Regions from separate parts of the Homo sapiens genome. Here region 2 is linked to region 1. Evidence: fine-mapped expression QTL. A gene starts in region 1. The other region holds a variant in brackets. All regions are shown on one strand. Distances are from middle to middle. Region 1 holds the start of LINC02207 (long intergenic non-protein coding RNA 2207). Region 2 overlaps LINC02207 (long intergenic non-protein coding RNA 2207).

Region 1 (5,392 bases):
TGGACTGCACATACAAAGGTGGTCCCATAAGATTAAAACAAAGCCACAAAATTCCTATCAATAGTGACATCATAGTCATTGTCGTGTCACAACTCAATGCATTACTCACATGTTTGTGGTCATCCTGGTGTAAACAAACCTACTGTATTTTCAATTGTAAAAAAATTATAGCACATGCAATTATGTGCAGTACATAATAATAAATGGCTATGTTACTAGCTTATGAAATAAATACTATACTATATTTTTCATCATTATTTTAGAGTGTACTTATAAATAAGTTATTTTGAAGCAGCCTCAGGCAGGTCCTCCAGGAGGTATTCCAGAAGAAGGCACTGTTATCACAGGAGATGACAGCTCCGTGTGTGTTTTTGCCCCGAAGACTTTCCAATGGGACAAGAGGTGGGACAAGAGAGTGATATTGATGATCCTGACCCTGTGTAGGCCTAGGCTATTGCGTGTCCATATCTTCATTTTTAACAAAAACTTTAAAAAGTAAAAAAAGAGATTTAAAAATAGAAAAAAGCTTTAGAATAAGGATATACAAAAGAAACTAATTTTGTACAGCTGTACAATGTGTTTGTGTTTTAAGTGTTATTACAGAAAAGTCAAAAACTTTTTAAAACTTAAAAAGCTTATAAAGTAAAAAGGTTACAGTAAGCTAAGGTTAACTTATTATTAAAGAAAGAAAAAAGTTATAAAGGTAGCGTGGCCTAAGTGAACAGTGTTTATAAAGTGTACCGTAATGCACGGTAACTTCCTAGGCCTTCACATTCACTCACTACTCACTGACTCACCCAGCGCAACTTCCAGTCCTGCAAGCTCCATTCATGGTAAGTGCCCTACACAAGTATGCCATTTTTTATATTTTATAGCATATTTTTACCGTACCTTTCTATGTTTAGATACACAAGTACCATTGTGTTACAATTGCCTACAGTATTCAGTACAGTAACAGACTGTACAGGTTTGTAGCCTAGGAGTAATTGGCTATTCCATACAGCCTAGGTACGGAGTAGGCTATGCCATCTAGATCTGTGTGAGTACATTCTGTGATGTTCACACCATTATGAAATCACCTGATGCACTTCTCAGAATGTATCCCCATCATTAAGCTAGAATAATATATATATATATGGATATATATATATATATATCCCATTATCTTTTGTCTCTACGCTCATTCAACTTGAACTGTTTCAAACTTTGGAGACTTACAATTATGCTGATTCCTTTATTTAATAAAAGAAAAAATTAAGCTCTCATGGCTCGTGGCTTTTCTTATTGCCACTGCATGGACTCTGAACCTCTGTCTCAGCCAGGCACGAGGAAGCAGAGAGGTGGTGAACTGAGAGCTGCAGGGTCTCACTGTTTTGTTCTAGATCAGCACTTTTTAAACTTTAGTGGGTGCAAATCACATGAGGATGTCATTAAAGTAAAGATTACAATATAGTATGTCTGGAATGAATCTTAAGATTCTGCCTTTTCAACAAGTTCCCAGCATATATGGTGTTGTTCTTCTGCAGACCCCGCTTTAAGAAAAAAAATTAGAAAGCTCTAGATCTTAATTCAAAACTCTTATTTTTTTCAACTTGGGGGTGGGAATGGTGGTAAGACAATTTGGCAAGATTTGGCAATAGGGACTGCTAGTATAATAGACTATTTCTCTCATCTATTCCCCTCTTCACCCCTCTTGACACACCCTGCCAGAATGCATGTGACCTTCCAGAAAGGAATTATGCTCAGCAAAATGCCCTGAGGTATTAAATAATGAACTAAAATATGACTCTTTTTTTTTTTTTCTGAGACAGAGTCTGGCCCTGTTGCCAGGCTGGAGTGCAGTGGCACCAGGACCAGGTTGGAGTGCAGTGGCGTGATCTCGGCTCACTGCAAACTCCGACTCCCTGGTTCAAGCAATTCTCCTGCCTCAGCCTCCCAAGTAGCTGAGATTACAGACACATGCCACCACGCCCAGCTAATTTTTGTATTTTTAGTACAGACGGGGTTTCACCGTGTTGGCCAGAATTGTCTCTATCTCCTGACCTCGTGATCCTCCCGCCTCGACCTCCCAATAAAATATGACTCTTAACAAATATAAAATGAATGTATGTAAAGATTTTCTTTAAGTAATGAGTGAACCAGTAAGATGTTACGATCAGTATGAGGGAGGATTCAAACAACACACACATCCGTGCAATCAGAAATGCTGAAATAAACAAACACAGAAGATGTCAATAGTTACTGGGCAATAATACATTTGATTCTACTGGACAAAGTTTATTTGCATTCCTAGGAAAAAGTCATTTGCATTCACATAAGCTTTCTACACATTACAGATTTATAAAATGGTTCAAAAGAAGTGCAGACCCCTATAGAATTAGGTAAAATGGAAAGGCAGCTAAAGAGGACACCTAGTAATTATTTTATCCATTTCAAAGTCTTTCCACAATTTTTCCTGACAGAGATAACACTTTAGGAAGAATATCCTAAGTTAATTGAGAAGCCATATGAGAAATAATATAACTATTGCCCCCAAACTAGCCCTGTCCTCTTATCCCCTCCTAACCACACACTAGCCGGCATCAGGAACCAGGACATAATCAGACAGCTCCTTTCCCGTCTCTCCTTTCCCAATCATACAATGCACATGCCACCTGTTCACCATTTTTTTCCACCCCTCACCATCCCATACCCACATAGATGTTCTCTTTCCCATTCTCCTAAACTTCCTCAAATATTCTTTCTAGGAAGGCTTATCTCAAATATCATCTCCTCATTGAATAACAATAATGATGATAATAAAAGCCACTAATTGATTCCTTAGCTCTTTAGCTCACCACCTCACCTTCACAACTATCCTCAGAGGTAAGCTGTTATCATTGCAATTTTACAGCTGGGGAAACCAGAGCTGAGAGAGCCCGAGCCTTTTTCATAAGGTCACAAAACTATTATGAGGTGGTAAATGCTTTACTACCATGAAATAAAAAGATTTCCTCTCTCTTAGAGCTTTAGCACTCTGTCCATGTGCTCACTTAGCTTTTTTATCACATACCACGTATGGCTGTTTGTCTTCTAGCTCTCCCATTTCTTCTTTATCATCTTTCTTTGCATAACCACAACCTCCCTGCCTCAAAGTTACCTGTGCCTCTGCTCCTCATGAGAAAGCAGATAGCATGTCCTATCCATGCATGGGTCCATATACAGGGTAAGCTTTTACTAAATAGAACTGAAAGGTGAGTTTTATGACAATATAAACACAAATATATTTATGTCATTATATTCTCTTTTGTACATTACCTGTAGCAAATTATCATGTAGGTATTCAATAATATTTTCTTCAAATTTGATCTCCAAGGGAAATTGGAAAAGAAAATCAGAATTTCTAAAACACAATTCCACAGGAAGAAACACTTTTTAAAAATATTTAATTTTAAAATTAAAGACAGGTTTAGCTGCAGGCAAAGTAATCAGCATGACGAATGAGGATGGGTGATTTGGTCTCCTACTCCAACTTTGCCGTCTGAGTTCCCTGGGCTCTTAGAGGCTCAGAGTATCCCAGGCTGGACGGAGTCTGATAAACTCCGTGAATGTGTGTGCACTGTAAGCTAACAATGGAAGCACTGGCGTGGTGTCTTAGAAAGTATTCCTAATATCAGTACCTCTTACCCTCAAAGGACTTGTTCAGAGCCAAACGCCAGGGACTTAGGTAGAGGAAACATTTGAGAGGAGGAGAGTTTTTATTAAGTTTCCAAACTCACTCTATGTATGTCAGGTAATTTGACCTCATGTGAGAGGCAGCTGGCTGTGGGAGAACTGAAGTTTGGGCTGGGCTTGAATATGTTTCCTTCATACGGTGTGACCTTCCCCAAGTTATGCAAATCTTTGAGTCCCAATCTTCATGCTTAAATGAAAATGATGCCTGCCTGTTACAATTGCTTAAGGAATTAAATGGAGGTTTTCTCTATTTGCACGTGTGTGCATGTCACAATACACACAGAGAGAAACCACCAGGCAATGAAGGCTGATTCCATCCCTCCCCTGGTTAGTTCATATGATTTCTGAGCCTGCCAGAATTCCTTCCAGTGAAATGAAACTAAGGGAGAGAAACATCCCAAGGCCTGGATGCCTGGAAAGATTTTACCTAATGAATTTTCAGTTTATTTGTTATAAAAGTGAATTTGGTCTGATTGAAACAAAGTATTCACAGCTTTTCTGTGCTTTAAAATGTCATTACAAAAATGCAATTCTTTTCAAATATCTATTTTTAAACTTTATTTTCTAACTTCAATCTCAGGCCTTGATAAAAAAAAAAAAAAAAAGATGCTTAGTAATGTTTTGCCTTAGGAAATATTTTAAAAAGTTACTACCATAGGTTTATTTGACATCCAAGGACACATATATAAATAATTCAGAAGGTGGAAGTTATGGCAGAGGTCCATTTGTGATTAATAAGCCTAGAGCCTTATCAATAACATAATTTGAAGACTTTCAGCAATCTTCTACCGAATGCCTCCTATTCTCAAAGTAAACACATTGATCATGTAAATAGTGCTCTTTTTCTTTTCTAACTTGAGTGTATTTTTCCTCGCATTCAATGCTTTGAAGAGTAATACCTTCAGCCATGTAACAGGAGTTACTTTCTCCTCCTCTCCCTCTCTTTATCACCCTCTCTATCTCAGCAGGTATCTACTGCAGCCCCTTATATCTTTAACGTATTTATAGAATTTAACCCATTTTCACTATCAGTTTGGCCACTTATTCTTTCATTGATGAATATTTATTGAATCTATACCATGTTCAGCCAGTCTCTAAGATAGTTGGAATCCATCAGGAAATGAAACCCAAACGCCTGCTACCATGGAGTCTACATTTCAGCAGAGGACAACAGGACAATATACTTAATAATCGAGTAAATTATTTTACTATGGGAGAAGGTGGTAAGTGCTGTGAGGGAATAAAGAAAAAGTGGAGCTGGATAAGGAAGAATAGGAGTGCTGAAGTAGGTGGCGATTCAAATATGGTGGTCAATGTGACATTTGAACAAAGACTTACAGAAGGTAACAGAGTTCACTATACAGATAGGTAGGGAAAAACATTCCAGGCTAAAGCAACAGCTATTTCAAAGGCCTGAGGCAAGAATTTCCTTGCATGTTGGAGGCGGGGAGAGGGTGCCACCATGTCTGGAGCCAAGCGACAATTGGAGAGAGTCCTGGGAGATAAAACAGAGAGGTCAATGGGCCAGACTATGTAGGGATTTGTGGGCCATTGTATGGACCACATCTTTTGCTGTAATTAAAATGGGAACACTGGAAAGTTTTGTAATGGGCAGTGACATGAACTGACTCTGGCTTAGATTTCAAGAGGACCACTGGGGCTGCTGCCTTAAGAATAG
Region 2 (5,392 bases), 6.7 kb before region 1:
TAGATTTCTCTCAAATTCTCATACTTTTAAGATTTATTTTTAAATGTGAGCATTGAAACTTAACCAATCCTTTAGACTCTTACTCAACAAGGGATTCTAAAGAACATTTCTCAGTAGGAATTAATCATTTATTTTGAAACTACATATCTAATTTGTCTACTATGGGAAGGATATGGAAAGAGAAAACCCAATTCTTTTTATTTTTTGGAACAGCTGGGTCCCCAAACCACCAGCAGCTGCTTCACAAATTGCCTAGCCATTAAGTAATTATTTCCTCATCATAAGAGCAGCTGGAAGAGCTAGTCTCTCTCCCTCCCCAGTGCAACTCCCACTTCCTTCTGCCTCCTCCACCCTGTCCTGAAATGGGCAGGCCAAGAGGTATACGGTATTGGTTTTCTTTACGTAATTGAAGACTGGAATTGAGCACTCTGATAGCTGATTATTTTTCAACAGCGCTTACCTTAAAGGCAACAGAGGATGACTTGGATTCTTGTGATGCTAGATCTCTACGTGACATGAAATGTTGATATCTAGGCATGTAGGCCACTTCCCTCGTTTTGTTGGTAAGGAACTTAAGTGCAGAGAAATGGTTTATTCAAAGTCCCATTTAGCAAGTGGCAGAGCTGAGTCTTGGATTCAGGTCTTACCACTTCTGGCCCAGTGTTGTCTCCACTATCCATGACAATGGACCGCAAACTTGCCTCATCTTCCTACCAGTCATCTGCTATCTGGGGACTGAAGAAACAGATGAAATGGGCGATGTTTTCTATTTCATCAAAAGAAAAAGATAACGTTGAAGTTTTAGCAATTGCATATACTTTCCAAAAGTGTAAAGACAATATAAAAATGCCTCATAAAACCACAAACTACACACTCAAAAATATCAGTCAATACCATCAATCTACTCCATACCCAGTCAAAGTCAAGGAAAGTTCACATTTTATGGGTAAACAAAGAGCTTTAGGGAAAGATTAAATCATCCAAAAAATTGGCCATATTTGGAGTTCAATCAATTTTAAGTTCTGTCTCTATCCCCCCAAAACATAGTAACATATTTTGATACTTTTTCTTCCAAGATTCCTCAGAATAGTGGCTCCTACTCTGGAAGCATTTCACTTTGCGCTAATCCAGTGTTTCATAATGTGTGGTCCATGAAAACTTTGTGTATATTCTAAGGATCTAGGATAGGAACAGAAGGGGAGGATGGTGTACTCGTTAAAAGTTCAGATTCCTGGGCCTTGCCCCAGACATACTTAATCCTAATTTCTGAAAGGTGGAGTGAGGGATGAGGTTAGAAGTAGTAATTAGCATAATTTTCCTTTTTGTATCTGCCTCTATAACTTCAGACAACCACCATGTCTTAGTCTGTTTTGAAATGCCATGAAGGAATATCTGAGGCTGGGTAATTTATAAAGACAAGAGGTTTATTGGAGAGAAAAGGAAATACTTATACACTGTTAGTGGGAATGTAAATTAGTTCAGCCATTGTGGAAAGCAGTTTGGAGATTTCTCAAAGAACTTAACGTAGAACAGCCTTTTGACCCAGCAATTCTGTTACTCGGTGTATACCCAAAGTAATATTAATTGTTCTACCATAAAGACACATGGACATGTATGTTTATCTCAGCACTATTCACAATAGCAAAAACATGGAGTCAACCTACATGCCCATCAACAGTGGACTGAATAAAGAAAACATGGTATATATACACCATGGAATACTATGCCACTATTAAAAAACAATGAGATCGTGTCTTTTGCAGCAACATGGATGGAGCTGAATGCCATTATCCTAAGATAATTCATGCAGGAACAAAAAACCAAATACCTCATGTTCTCACTTGTAAGTGAAAGCTAAACATGGAGTACACATGTACACAAAGAAAGGAACAATAGACACCAAAGCCTGCTTGAGGGTGGAGGATAGGAGGAGGGTGCGGATCAAAAACATACCTATAGATGCTATGCTTATTTCCTGGATGACAAAATAATCTGTACACCAAACTCCTATGGTATGAAATTTACCCATGTAGCAAACCTGCACATGTAGCCCCTGAGTACATGTTTCTTAACAACATAAATGTAACATTAGTCAAGCCAATACATATGTTTCTTCGGACATTAAGTAGTAGATAACTATTAGGAAGATGAGGCAAGTTCATGGCCCACTGTCACAACACAGTGGAGAAAACACTCCACTGGGCCTTTATTTCCCAACTAAAACAAAAGTTGGGAAGAAAAACAATAAGAAGAAAGGTTTGTTTGGCTCATGGTTCTGTGGGCTCTACTAGAAGCATGGCAGTGGCATCTGCATCAGGTGAGGCCTCAGGCTGCTTCCACTCATGGCAAACGGCAGAGGAGAGCTGGCTGTGCAGAGATCACATGGTGGGAGAGGAAGCAAGAGAGGGAGAAATAGTGCCAGGCTCTTTTTCACAGCTGTCTCTCATGGGAACTAACATGGTGAGAACTCAGTCACTCCCTCCCCTCAGAAAGGGCATTCATCTATTAATGGGGATCTGCTCCTACTACCCAGACACCTCGAATTAGACCCCCTTCCAACACTGGAATCAAACTTCAACATGAGGTTTGAGGGGGTCAAACAGCCAACCCATAGCCCAGCCTGTAGACACAAATGAGGTAACTTCAGTGCTTAAAACCCACTCTGCTAGACTGCAGCTTCCACGGGTACCCTCAGAATCTTTGCATCACCCCACATGACTCTAACTCGCCATGAATTTCAGTTATTTGGAGCATCATTGACAGCTGACAACCACTTCTCTTACGAGGTCTTTATTCTGGTCTTCACATGCTATGCCCACTCCCACAAGGCACCGTAGATACATTTGGTCAAACCATCCCCCCCTGAGAACACCTCTGCTTTGAGCAAAATACCTGCTGCTGGTGCTCTCAGAGATGTGAGAAGCTCCAGGAGTCCCAGTGGTCCTGCACTGACTTTTGCCATCACCATACTGCAGGATTCATGCTGGGATCTGCTCGAAGTGGGGAGAAGGATCCTGTCTCTAGTCTGGGGTTGCTTGTTGTCACTTGAGCTCAGGCATTTTACTCCTTGTCTCTGATCTCACAGAGTCCGTTACATAAATGACTTCCTCAGCTTTCACCGCGCTCTTCCTTCCTCTTGGGCTCTGACGCAAGTCTGGGAA[C/T]GTACTGTATTATTTGCCCGTAGCTCAGTCTCTGGCCCTGACACAACACCCCAGACACCCTCCTCTAAGTCTCCTTTTTCCCATGGACAGAACTCTGTCATACAGGCACATGGGTTTTCCATAACCTCAAAACTCAGCAGAAAGTCTGTGAATCCCAGTTATGGTGCCAGTGAAATATCCCCCTCCCTTCGTTTTCACTTGCAGGCATCCATTATTTTGAAAATTGCTTTGTGCCTCATATTCCCATTCCATTCACATATTCATTCCCACATAAATTTGGGAGATATGCATGACAAAATACTAACAGAAAAGGAGAAATAAAATAGAGAAACATAAAAGGGCAGAAACAACATTAAGGACATGAGAAAACTTTAAACAGGAACAATAGAGAAATGGGGAAATAGAACCAGAAATGCACAGAATAGACATGTGGGTAGGATAAAGCAATGAAGAAACACAAAAAGAGATATGGAAGACACAATCGGGTAATGATAATAATATTGGCTAATATTTATTGAGCACTTATGCTGCATCAGGCCTTATGCTATGTGCTTTACTTGCAAAATCTCCGTGAAGCACCATAATAACCCTATCAATAAACACTATTTGAATTTCCATTTTGTATGAGGCAGGTGAGACTTAATCAGTCTCGGAACTAACAGTCTGTGGCTTCCGCATCTGTGGTAAATCTGCTACCCTGATTCCCCCAAGCACTCTCCTGTACTCTGGCTACTCCAAGTCCTCCTCTGGGTCACCTCCTTTGACTGCTCCCCACTTGGCCTGTTCCCCTCCCTGCTTTCACATGATCCAGTGACTCAAAGCTGAGCGCCTGGTACAGCAGGAACTCCCAGTACCTGCTCCTGGGCTGTGCTGTCATCTGCTTGAACTGGTTGAGCCTCAACAATTTTATCTATTTTGACTATGACCCCTGATTAGAAGTTCAGTCAATTTTCCAGCTACAGTAGTCCATGAGGATACATTCCAGGCAACCCCCCTGCAGTGGTTGCCAGAAACCACAAATAGTACTGAATCCTATGTATATTATGTTTTTTCCTGTATATGGATACCTTATAATAAAGTGTAATTTATAAATTAGCCACAGGAAGAGATTAACAACAATTAATAATAAAATAGAATAGTTGAGTTAAATAATTGAGTACAAGCACTGCTGCAATACAATGGCCGCCGGTCTGATAACCGAGATGGCTGCTAAGTGACTAACAGGCAGGTACTGTCTACGGCGCAGACACGCCGGACACATGGATGCATCACGTCTCAGGCAGGATAGAGAGGGACAGAGAGAGATTTCATCACGCTACTCAGCAACAGTGCGTAATTGAAAACATATGAATTATTTCTTTCTGAAATTTTTCTTTTGATATTTTCAGACTGTGGCTGACTAGATAACTGAAACCACAGAAAGTGAAACCACAGATAAGGGGGGACTACTGTCATAAGTGGTAAGCTAGGTTTTGAACTAGGGCAGAGAGTTTCCTGGCAAGAATAAGGCCCCAGTGAAATATGATGAAAAATGATAGTAATGATGAACTGAAAATTTTTTAAAACTTTAAAATGGTCATTTGATGAATGATTTAAAAAGTAAAGGGTCAGAGAGGGTCAGGCAGGAACTGGAAAATGAGCATCGACTGCCCCTCCTCCCATTTTGTCCAGTGAAAAAACTGAGGCCATGGTCTTCCCAGTCATCTCATTGGGCATGCCCGGGTTGGGGATGGCCAGGCTTCACATCTCTGCTCTCTCCAGCATTGGGAGGATTCTAAAATGATTTTCCACAGGATGCTGATAGTCAATGGCAGCGACCATGATGGTAATACACTAGAAAAAAGAGCAACTGAAGAAAATGCAAATATAGCGGCAAATGTGCTTAAATTAAGGCAACAGCAATAAAAAAAACCAGAGGTAGAAAGTGTTAAGCCTTAGTTACCGCACCAAACAATTGACATGCTTCCTACCCACCCTCAGACCTGGTTGTTAAATGCAAGCTATACATTATGCAGACCCGATAATGAAAATCTACATTCCATAATTTGCAACCTGCTGGCTCTGTTATGCCAAGTGCATCTTAAAGAAGGCATCTTTCAACCTAATTGCATGCAATTTTTCCCCATTCTAATTGTGTTATGAAAATACCACTATCTCATTCAAGCACAACCAGATCACTTTGCTTTTCCCCTAAAGCACACATCAGTAAAGCAAAACAAAACTGACGACTT

What was found. PIP is the estimated chance that this variant, and not a neighbour inherited with it, causes the effect.
Region 2: its variant is fine-mapped to the expression of LINC02207 in whole blood (TOPMed, PIP above 0.99).

What each region holds. Positions count from the first base shown.
Region 1 is chr15:93,854,050-93,859,441 of GRCh38, reverse strand. It overlaps LINC02207 (long intergenic non-protein coding RNA 2207), which reads right to left and starts at 2,882. Exons shown (of 4, transcript NR_120321.1): 1 at 2,846-2,882.
Region 2 is chr15:93,860,717-93,866,108 of GRCh38, reverse strand. It overlaps LINC02207 (long intergenic non-protein coding RNA 2207), which reads right to left. Exons shown (of 4, transcript NR_120321.1): 2 at 461-735. Among named protein-coding and RNA genes, the nearest start is that of LINC02207, 6.9 kb to the right of the region's middle. The variant C/T (reference allele first, on the strand shown) is at 3,162.